Regions from separate parts of the Homo sapiens genome. Here region 1 is linked to region 2. Evidence: fine-mapped expression QTL. A gene starts in region 2. The other region holds a variant in brackets. All regions are shown on one strand. Distances are between the middles of the regions. Region 1 overlaps ATG14 (autophagy related 14). Region 2 holds the start of ATG14 (autophagy related 14).

Evidence for each region. PIP is the estimated chance that this variant, and not a neighbour inherited with it, causes the effect.
Region 1: its variant is the best candidate, but not a certain one, in a credible set for the expression of ATG14 in whole blood (TOPMed, PIP 0.57).

The regions. Positions count from the first base shown.
Region 1 is chr14:55,389,414-55,394,413 of GRCh38, forward strand. It overlaps ATG14 (autophagy related 14), which reads right to left. Exons shown (of 10, transcript NM_014924.5): 4 at 1,498-1,579. It also overlaps a transcript of FBXO34 not described here and the pseudogene HMGN1P1. Among named protein-coding and RNA genes, the nearest start is that of ATG14, 20 kb to the right of the region's middle. The variant C/T (reference allele first, on the strand shown) is at 2,166.
Region 2 is chr14:55,409,685-55,415,141 of GRCh38, forward strand. ATG14 (autophagy related 14) reads right to left here and starts at 2,146. Exons shown (of 10, transcript NM_014924.5): 1 at 1,918-2,146. The coding sequence starts at 2,138. It overlaps TBPL2 (TATA-box binding protein like 2), which reads right to left. Exons shown (of 7, transcript NM_199047.3): 7 at 4,526-4,771. The coding sequence ends at 4,695. It also overlaps a transcript of FBXO34 not described here and the pseudogene RPL21P6. RefSeq lists a silencer at 2,136-2,435.

The DNA of each region.
Region 1 (5,000 bases), 20 kb before region 2:
TGTTCAGTGTGCTGCCCTAATTCTCTAGTTTAGTAATCCCGTGAAACTCCACGTGAGCACTTTATTAGGACAAATGTTTTCAATGGAAGCTTTACACCATTACATGCCACTATAAAAGACTTGCTTCTGGAAGCAATGAGTAGACAAGAAAAAGGGATTCACGAGGTCTGATGGTGACTCATTCTAAACTTTAAACAGTGATCTTCAGAAATTCATGGACTGCAGCTTGCTGCCGGCACTCATTTAATGTTACATAAACATGCTCTTTGAGTCTGAAGTAAATCTGATTTTCAATGTGAAAATAAAATATAAAAACTGCTCTTGGAGTTATTTCTAAACAGAACTTGTCTCTAATCCTAATGTAATAGAAATGTATATGATGTTACATTAGGATTAGAAACGAGTATTCTTGGGGCAAATGGGAAGTGGCTTAAGGATGTAGGACTTCTAAGAGAATTCATTTTGACAACGATCTATGATAAAGTATAAAGTGTACAAATATGATGTAAGATTAATACAGATTACAATGTGGAGACTCACTAAGGGAAAAAAAAAACAATATTCTGTGCTTCTGGCATGGGCCAATAATTATTACAAGTGAGTACCAAGTTAAGACTCTGAGCTTCCTGCTAGCCAAGGCAAATGGGAACATACATTCCTTAACTTTTTTTTTTGAGACAGAGTTTTGCTCTTGTTGCCTAGGCTGGAGTGCAATGGCACGATCTCAGCTCACCGCAATCTCCGCCTCCCAGGTTCAAGCAAGTCTCCTGCCTCAGCCTCCTGAGTAGCTGGGATTACAGGTGCCTGCCACCACGCCCGGCTAATTTTTGTATTTTTAGTAGAGATGGGGTTTCACCATGTTGGCCAGGCTGGTCTCAAACTCCTGACCTCAGGTGATCCACTCCCCTCGGCCTCCCAAAGTGCTGGGATTACAGGCATAAGCCACCGTGCCTGGCCAACTTTTTTATTTTTTTCTTTTGAGACAGAGTCTGGCTCTGTGCCCAGGCTGGAGTGCAGTGGCGCAATCTCAGCTCACTGCAAGCTCTGCCTCCTGGGTTCACACCATTCTCCTGCCTCAGCCTCCCAAGTAGCTGGGACTACAGGCACCCGCCACCACACCCAGCTAAGTTTTTGTATTTAGTAGAGACGGAGTTTCACCATGTTAGTCAGGATGGTCTCGATCTCCTGACCTTGTGATCCGCCTGCCTCAGCCTCCCAAAGTGCTGGGATTACAGGCGTGAGCTACCACGCCTGGCGCCTAACTTTTTTAATTGAGAAAAGAATCTGGTTATTTAAGGCCTCTGAAATTGTGTATTTAACTTTTAAAAATTCCTTATACAAATGTTTTACAAGGAAAGATGAGGGCGAGTAGTAAAATTCTCCAAGTTGCCACTGCCCCACCATCCCCTTCCTTTCTGTGTCCCTCTAGTTTATTAATCCCATGAAATTCCACATAGGCACTTTCTAGGGCTGGAAGGAAGGACACGAATTACTTACTTTTCTCCATTTCTTCATTTCCTTTACATATTGTTTGTTTTAACTGTTCAATCCTCATCTTGCAGGACATTATTTTCCATCTCTGAAAAAAGCATGTAATAAATATCACAAACGTTGGTCTCTTATGGTTAATATGATTATCTACCTGGGATCACTGCTTATTTTCAGATATGTCAGAAAACATAATGAAGAAAAAGACCTTATGTTATAGCTTTTGTAACTATGGAACATTACGAAAAAGAGAACGATGTTTTTCTAGTTCAATGCAGAGAAAAGAGAAATTAGGCCAGTGCGGTGGCTCACGCCTGTAATCGCAGCACTTTGGGAGGCCAAGGAGGGCAGATCAAGAGGTTAGGAGATCAAGACCATCCTGGCCAACATGGTGAAACCCCATCTCTACTAAAAAAATACAAAAATTAGCTGGGCGTGGTGGCGCATGCCTGTAATCCCAGCTACTCGGGAGGCTGCGGCAGGACAATCACTTGAACCAGGGAGGCGGAGTTTGCAGTGAGCCGAGATCACGCCACTGCAGTCCAGCCTGGCAACTGAGTGAGACTCCATAAAAAAAAAAAAAAAAAAAGGAAAGGGAAATTACGAGAAAGAAATTCACATAGTTTTGTATGTATCAGTAAGCAAAGAGAAAAAAGTTGAAGGACATTCTCTAAACC[C/T]GCTCTAGCTATATAGCTACTAGCCACATGTGGTTACTTAAAACTCAATTTAAATCATACAAAATCAAAAATTCAGTTCCTTACTCACACCACCCTCATGTCAAATGTTTGACATCACATATGGCTAGTGGCTAATGGACTGGACAGCGCAGATACAGAACTCAAGCATCATCACGCAAAGTCCTACTGACGTGCAGCTCCAAACCTCTAGTTCTGGTTACTGAGGAGACGGTTAACATAACCAAGTCATCTCACCCAATAAGCAACTAGTACTTGCAAGTTAATAAAAATGGCAAAAAACATTATTTTTTCAGTGCATAACTCAAGTAAGATTTCCTGAAAAGCCTCAGAAAATTATATGAAACATGAAATTGACTCTTTATATTACCAGGAGTTAGGTTCAGCACCCCCTAAAGCAGTGGTCCCCAACTTTTTTGGCACCAGGGACCAGTTTTGTGGAAGACAATTTTTCCACGGACAGGGTGGCAGATGATTTACAGGAATGAATCTGTCCCACCTCAGATCATCAGGCTTTAGAGTCTCATAGGAGTGCACAACCTAGATCCCTCGCATGTGCAGTCCATAATAGAGTTCGCACTCCTATGGAAACTAATGCCACCACTGATCTGACAGGAGGTGGAGCTCAGGTGGTAATGCTCACTTGCCCTACTCACCTCCTGCTGTATGGCCTGTTTCCTAACAGGCCACAGCCCAGTAGGTATATGTGGCCTGGGGGTTGGGGACCCCTGCCTTAAAGTGAACAAAGGATCAATAAAAATAGGATCTATGGCCGGGTGCAGTGACTCACACCTGTAATCCTAGACTTTGGGAAGCTGAGGCAGGCACATCACTTGAGCTCAGGAGTTCGAGGCCAGCCTGGGCAACATGGCGAAACCCCATCTCTACCAAAAATACAAAAAATTAGCCAGGTGTGGTGACATGCATCTATAGTCCCAGCTACCAGGGAGACTGAGGTGGGAGAATCGCTTGAGCCCAGGAGGCAGAGGTTGCAGTGAGCCAAGATTGTGCCACGGCACTCCAGCCTGGGTGATATAGCAAGACTCCACCTCAAAAAAAAAAAAAAAAAAAGAAGGATCTACTAGTTAGTTAAAAAGAATGATTATTCTCTAATGACTCCGTAAAGTGAATAATTAAAAGCTTAAAACAATGCTCAAATGTTCATGGTGTTACACTTATCTAAGTAGTCTGATGGTAAGAGACACAGAACAGATTACAGGGATGTTATGGTGAGCGAAACTCTAACATCTCGAATAGAGTCAGACATTCAAAAACAGATCCACAGGGACTGAGGGGTTCAGAAATATATCAGATATGACCTATCCTCAATTTTAAAAGGTAACAGAGTCTTTAGAAATGAATATTGAAGTCTTAGATAGAAAAACTAGAAACATTACAGAAAACTCAGGAAAATCTTCCACAGAACATGTTTTGTTTACTAAAACATTCAGAGAATAAGCAAAATTCACTTCTATCACAAATTTTAAGTATAATGAAATATATGACTGGGCGCGGTGGCTCACGCCTGTAATCCCAGCACTTTGGGAGGCCAAGGTGGGCGGATCACGAGGTCAGGAGATTGAGACCATCCTGGCTAACACGGTGAAACCCCGTCTCTACTAAAAAAACACAAAAAAACTTAGCCGGGCGTGGTGGTGGGCGCCTGTAGTCCCAGCTACTCGGGAGGCTGAGGCAGGAGAATGGTGTGAACCCAGGAGGTGGAGGTTGCAGTGAGCCGAGATCGCGCCACTGCACTCCAGCCTGGGTGACAGAGCGAGACTCTGTCTCAAAAAAAAGAGGAAAAAAAAAGAAATATATGAATAATGTTTACTGTTGTGAAAAAAAATTACACATTACAGAAGAAAAACAGAAAATGTGACTGTTAGCCTGACTCCTTCCCATTTCTCAGGGGTAATCCTTTAAAATTAAAGTTTAATGTGTATCTTTTCAGATTTTTTTTTTTTTTTGAGTCAGGGTCTCACTCTGTTGCCCAGGTTAGAGTATGGTGGTGTGATTACAGCTCACTTCAGCCTGACCTCCCTGGCTCAAGTGATCCTCCCACCTCAACCTCCCAAGTAGCTGGGACTACAGGTATATACTACCATGCCTGGCTAATTTTTGGTTTTTGTTCGTTTTTGTAGATATGGGGTTTTGCCATGTTTCCCAGGCTGGTTTTCAATTCCTGGGCTTGAGCAATCCACCTCGGACTCCCAAAGTGCTGGGATTACAGGGCATCCACCACCACACCCAGCGCAGATTTTATAAGAGTATATTTATATTTAAAATACATAAATGAAATCATACTTTATCCTAGTTTATTATTTTTTTCCATTAATAAATACAACTTGGACATCATTCCACAGCACGTAGACTGACCACATTCTTTTTAACAACTACACAGTATCATAATTTTTTTTTTTTTTTTTTTGAGATGGAGTGTTGCTCTGTCGCCCAGGCTGGAGTACAGTGGCGCAATCTCGGCTCACTGTGATCTCTGTCTCCTGGGTTCAAGTGATTCTCCTGCCACAGCCTCCTGAGTAGCTGGGATTACAGGCGTGTGCCACCATGCCCAGCTAATTTTTCTATTTTTAGTACAGATGGGGTTTCACCATGTTGGTCAGGCTGGTCTCGAACTCCTGACCTTGTGATCCACTTGCCTCAGCCTCCCAAAGTGCTGGGATTATAGGCATGAGCCAACGTGCCTGGCCCTTTTTTTCCTTCATAATTGAGATTTCACTGGTTGTGTTGAAGATCAGTACACAGACATTTCAATTTGTACCCAATTCTTAATATACATACCCAAAATCTAAAAGCCAT
Region 2 (5,457 bases):
GGCCACAGTGGCACAGCAGATTAGGTAAGGGAGAAAATAATAGGAGATTAAATCAGAGGAACAGATAATATAGAACTTTGGTTAAGGACTCCAGCTTTTACTTTGGGTAAAGTGAAAAACCACTGGAAGATTTGAACAGAAATGGAGGAGTAGCATAACTGTGGCTGCAATATGGAAATTGTACAAAAGGGGAGCAAGGACGGAAGCAGAGACATAAGAGGAAATAAGTTTATGTCTCTGGTAGATTGGACCAGGTGATGGTGAAAGGGTAAGATTTAAGATAAGTTTTGAAGAGTAGATGGGATTTGTTGTAAGATAAGTTTTGAAGAGTAGATGGGATTTGTTGATGGGACTAAACAGAGTTGGGTTAAGAGAGGAGTCAAGGAGAACTGAAAGGTTTTTTAGCCTGAACCAAAGGAACAATGAGATTGACATTTACTGGGTTGGGATGAGCATGGGAAAACAGATTTATGATGGAAAACAAGGAGTTCAGTTTGCCATATTAAAATGAAGATATCTATTACAAATCTAAAAATATTGATGTTGAATAAGCAGCTGTTTTCTGGACTTTAGAGAAGACTAGGTTGGAGATACAAGTCTGGCAGTCTTAAGCATATAGATGGTATTTAAATTATGTGAATAGACATAGTAAAACGTGTAGACAGACAAGAAGGTCCAGAACCAAATCCTCGATTCACTCCATCAGTTAGACATTTCCATCTCATACCCCGTATTCTTATAACTGGTTTAATTTTTAAAGCTATCACTTACTACATAAGCAGTTTCTAAAGTCATCAAGAGCACCAATAAGACACAGCAACAAAACTAAAAAAGAGTTTGTCATTCAAACCTCCTCAAAAGAGAAAGGAAAGAACTCCATCCACGATCACAGAAATACTAAGAACTCAAAACATTCCCAAATATAGAGGATATAAAGTCTAGTGGTTAAGTGCGGGTACATAGGTCCAAGCTGTCTGAATTTTAATTCTTGTACCAACACTTAACTATTTGTGTGACCTGGGGCAAAGCACTTACTGTGCAGCTTCCTAATAAGTTGGGGATAAGTCATTCGGTTGTTGCGAATGAATTAATACCTGAATTTTTGTGCTCAGAATGCTAGCTATCTTACTATCATTGACTATCATTGACACTAAATTGTTGAAACATAAGTTGAGAGTGGGAGATCCTGCAGCTAATCACACTAATTTTTCAATTTTCTTAACCAAGAACTTGTAGCTGTTTAGATTTCGAAATGAAACCAAAACATTTTCCTAAAGGCAATTCTCTTAACTAAAAGCATGCAGCTCCCAATCTGAATTTTAAAACAAGGCCAAAACACGTTCCCAAATTCCTAAGAATCTAAAATAATCTTTAGAGGCAGGGAGGGGAAAGGGGCGTTAACAGCAAGCCTCAATTCACACATTAGAGTAAGCATGTCTGATAACAAAGTCCATCTGTGACAGACTACCAGGCCCAAATCCCTCTAAAGCAGTTATTTGATTCTCTTCTACTCTCTCCTCTAGAGAATGAGTATAAATATGCTTTCGAAAATAGAAAGCCAAGCTTTTGAATGGGAGTACATACAGCAAAGAGCTGGGAATCTAACTTAATGGCAGCAACGGGAAAACTTCTCCAGAGAGTCACCACTTATTCCTTTTTTCCCCAGTGACCAAGAGCACCGTGGGGTCAAACTCCTCTTGGGTGGGTGATGGGGAAACGGCGACCTTCCCTCATCTGGCCCCTACGCTGTCCTCTGGTAGCAAAGCTCCGGTGCAGAGCAGCTAGCTACACTCCCTCTCTCTCGCTCCTCTCGCTGGTATCTGGTGCCCGGACGGGGAGCCCCAGGTTCCAGCCTTCGGCTGCCTGGCTGGAGGACACACAGCAGAAGAAACAATAGGGCCGTGGCGGCCGCCGTACCTCTCCCGGTCGCGGCCGTCGAAGTAGACGAAATCGCCGCTCTGAACGCATTTGGCGCAGGTCAGCCGCCGGCGGGTAGTGTTGCACAGCGGGCAGCGCTCCACAGCCACGTACAGCCCCTCCGCATCGTCCACGGAGTCCACCAGGTCCCGGGCGAGCGGCCGGGGCCCGCAGCCAGGAGCCTCCAGCGCCCGGGCTCCCTTCCCACTGGGAGACGCCATGATGGCCTGAGAGGAGAGCCAGTCACGTGGGATTTTGTTTTCAACCGGGTGCATTCTGGGCCAGGAGGAGGGGCCTGGGGAAGGGGGGCTGGGATGCCGGCGAGCCCCCGGACCCCTCCGCCGCCGCGTGTTCCTGTCCCGGGCACTGTTGTTTTTCCGGTCTGCTGAGGGGCAACAGGTCCCGAAGCAGGGGGAGAGTTATATTAGAGGGGCTAGTCGGCCAAACAAAATGTCATCTGCTGGCTCAGGCCAAGACTACGAGTTAAAGCCTCAAACTTGTGCAGAAAATTGTAATACCATACCCTAAGGATTCTGGGAAAACGGAATGGGAGCGGAATAAGGGAATTTAACTTGCTGTGGATGCTTTAAAATCTGGCTAAACTACAGCAAACAAAGTAGGGTGAAGGGGCTGGGTCTTGGAACTAGGTTGAATTTTGGCTCACTCACCTGCTTAATAGCTGTGTGACTTGGGGCAAGTTCCTTAATCTCTCTGCGCCTGTTCTCTCGTGTTAAATGGATAGAATTATAGTACCCATCTAATGCCGTGAGGATTAATATGGTTAATAGTATTATACTTTACCAATAGTGAAAACAACCAAAGTGAACGTGCAAAATCAGAATTGTATCCTTCTGAAAAGTTAATCACGTGGCTAACGTACCTTCCCTACCCTGGGCCATGCTCTAAGAGAATTTGAACTAGGTAGATGGTTAGGACTTCCCTTCAAGTTTCTTTTGGTGGATAGGGGATATATAAGGTGATGTGTTGGGAGGATCATATCAGAGTAATTAGTGTTTGAATATGCCTCTAAACTACAGAGAAAAGTGAGTTTATAGGTGAGATTAAATAGACCAGTGATTCTCAAGGATGATTTTACTAGGCTATCTACTGATAAACTGCCCTGAATTCTCTCTCTAGCCAGGATTCCTTTCTCAAGTTCCATACCCAAAGATCCAGAACTACTTACTAGGTATCAGGTGACATTCCAGGACACCACAAACTCAAAGTGTTGGAAACTGACTTCTGCCTCCCTACAAACCTGTTTTCTTACTTTGGTAAAGGACGTAATCACTGATGATTTACAGCCAAGAGCCATGATTCATATTAGCCCGTCCCTCCCTGTTAATCTCCACATCACCATCGAAAACTGGTGATTCTACAAGCTAATTAGGTCTTGAATCTGAGCCCTTTGCTCCTCCGTCTTCTTAATCTTACCCAGTCTTTTTAAATACAAATCACGTAGGATTACAAAAACAAGCAAAAGCAAAAATTCTCTATATTCAGAATACAGTTTACACTAAACTTGAATGGTTCCTGAAAGTTTAAGATTTATTTTTAAGTGAGAAGTCTTTCTCTCTGATCATTTCAAACAAAAGGATTATTTTTTAAGGTCTCGGGCTTATGTTTCATTTGTATTCAGACAGGATCCTTCACAGTGCTTAATACCTAATGATCAGGATCAACTGTTCAATATTTTAAAAGGCAAAAAATACACATTAATTCCTATCGTGCTAGATGATATCACAGATAGTATCTAGCTTATGCAGTTATTTGAAACTCCTATATGTTGCTATATATTTTCAGAGAACGCATATTAATGTATTACTTAACAGCAGAGCACTGAGGTTTTTGGATACAAAATGTAGTTTAAATATTTCTTTAAGGGGAGGGGGCGGCGCCACACTTCTCAATGAAGAGAAACATTTGTACAGTTCAGAATTTTTTTTGACACCTATTATGCCATGAACTCATAGGGAATAGGTTCCAGCAGCCCAGGCTCCCTCCATTGGTTCTAAGTGCTTGTCTGGGTGGAGCAGGCTGGCGCTTCAGTTGAACTCAGACACCTCTCCCTTTGACGTCTTTTTCTGATTATTTACCTTCACGCGTTTCAGGAAACTTACTTGGCTCTTAGAGTGCCAAGGCCCAGGCAGATGGATCAACTGAGGTCAGGAGTTCAAGACCAGCCTGGCTCAGTAAGCACATTCATTCTCTTGGCAAAAATCTTGCCCTTGTTTACAATGCCAACAGCATGCTGGGTAACACTGTAGACTCTTCCAGCTTTGCTGTGGTAACATTTGCGGAGCACTCCTTTTTGAAAAGCAGCCATTCCCTTGATGTCTACAATATCACCTTTTTCGTAGATTCGCATGTATGTGGCCAAAGGAACAACTCCATCTTTTCTAAAAGGCCTAGAGAACATGTATCAGGTGCCTCACCTCTTTCCCTTTGTGTTCGTCATTTTGGCAAATTACTGGAAGATGGCCCTTCCGGCTAAAAGGAAACGCATTGAGTCTTCATGATGCTACAATATCATTCTAGTGAGACCCTAAATCTCTCAAATTTTGAAATGTTTACTTGTTCAGTTTTTAAAATAACACAAAAGGAGTCATTTTGAATAAGAATTTTTCTTCGTTTCTTAGGTTACTTACACAGAGTCGCCCTTTAATAAGTAACGTACTTGTAACATCTACAATTAAACGTAGAAGAATCCAGCTGTTTCTGTGCTGGGCTTATGGACATATTCAAACCAGAATAATGTGAGATGCTGAATGATATGCTCAGGCTTTTTTAAAACCTTTTAGAATAGGATAGATGTTTTCAAATGCTTCATAGATCTCAGAACGTTCTTTGGCACCTATAAAGAAATCCAGGTTTATATAATTTTTAATATAAAAATACCAACATTTACTTAAACACTAAAATTTCATTGTATTGTCTCCAATTACTTTTAATATGACATCTCTTTAGCTGTACCTGAGAAATGGCATTTATTCCGGGTAAATAATTTGGCAACTACAGCCATATTTCCACAAGACAGAAACCTTAGAGCAGAGTTTTCTAGAACTTCTCTGTGGGTGTCATCTTTGCTCACACAGTGCTCAGTATGAAATGTGGAATGTTATCTCTACATGTGCCATGAATATGGCCTCAGAGTAATTTCATCAGCACCTGCGGGCACTTAGCTACCAGCAAAAGGGACTTCTTTTGATCCACGTCCTCTCTAGTTAACATCTTGATTCCCTAATATTGATAACAGATGGAGACAAATGAGCTTTAAATTTGTTTTAAATTTTAGTTTAAAATTCTAAATTTAAAAGAGTTTTAAATTTTAGTGCATGGGAAGGGATTATTAGAGGGGAAAACTGTACTACTGTCACTCGTAAAGTCTTGTTTCAAGAAATTGTAAATCATAACTGCTGTAGGAATTACAGGGATAAAAACATGAATCAAACAGTCTCCACCATTGAGAAGTATTAGTCCCTACTCATCTCTCACCAACAACCAAACACCACCATTACCTCCAGCTTCCAAATTATGCAG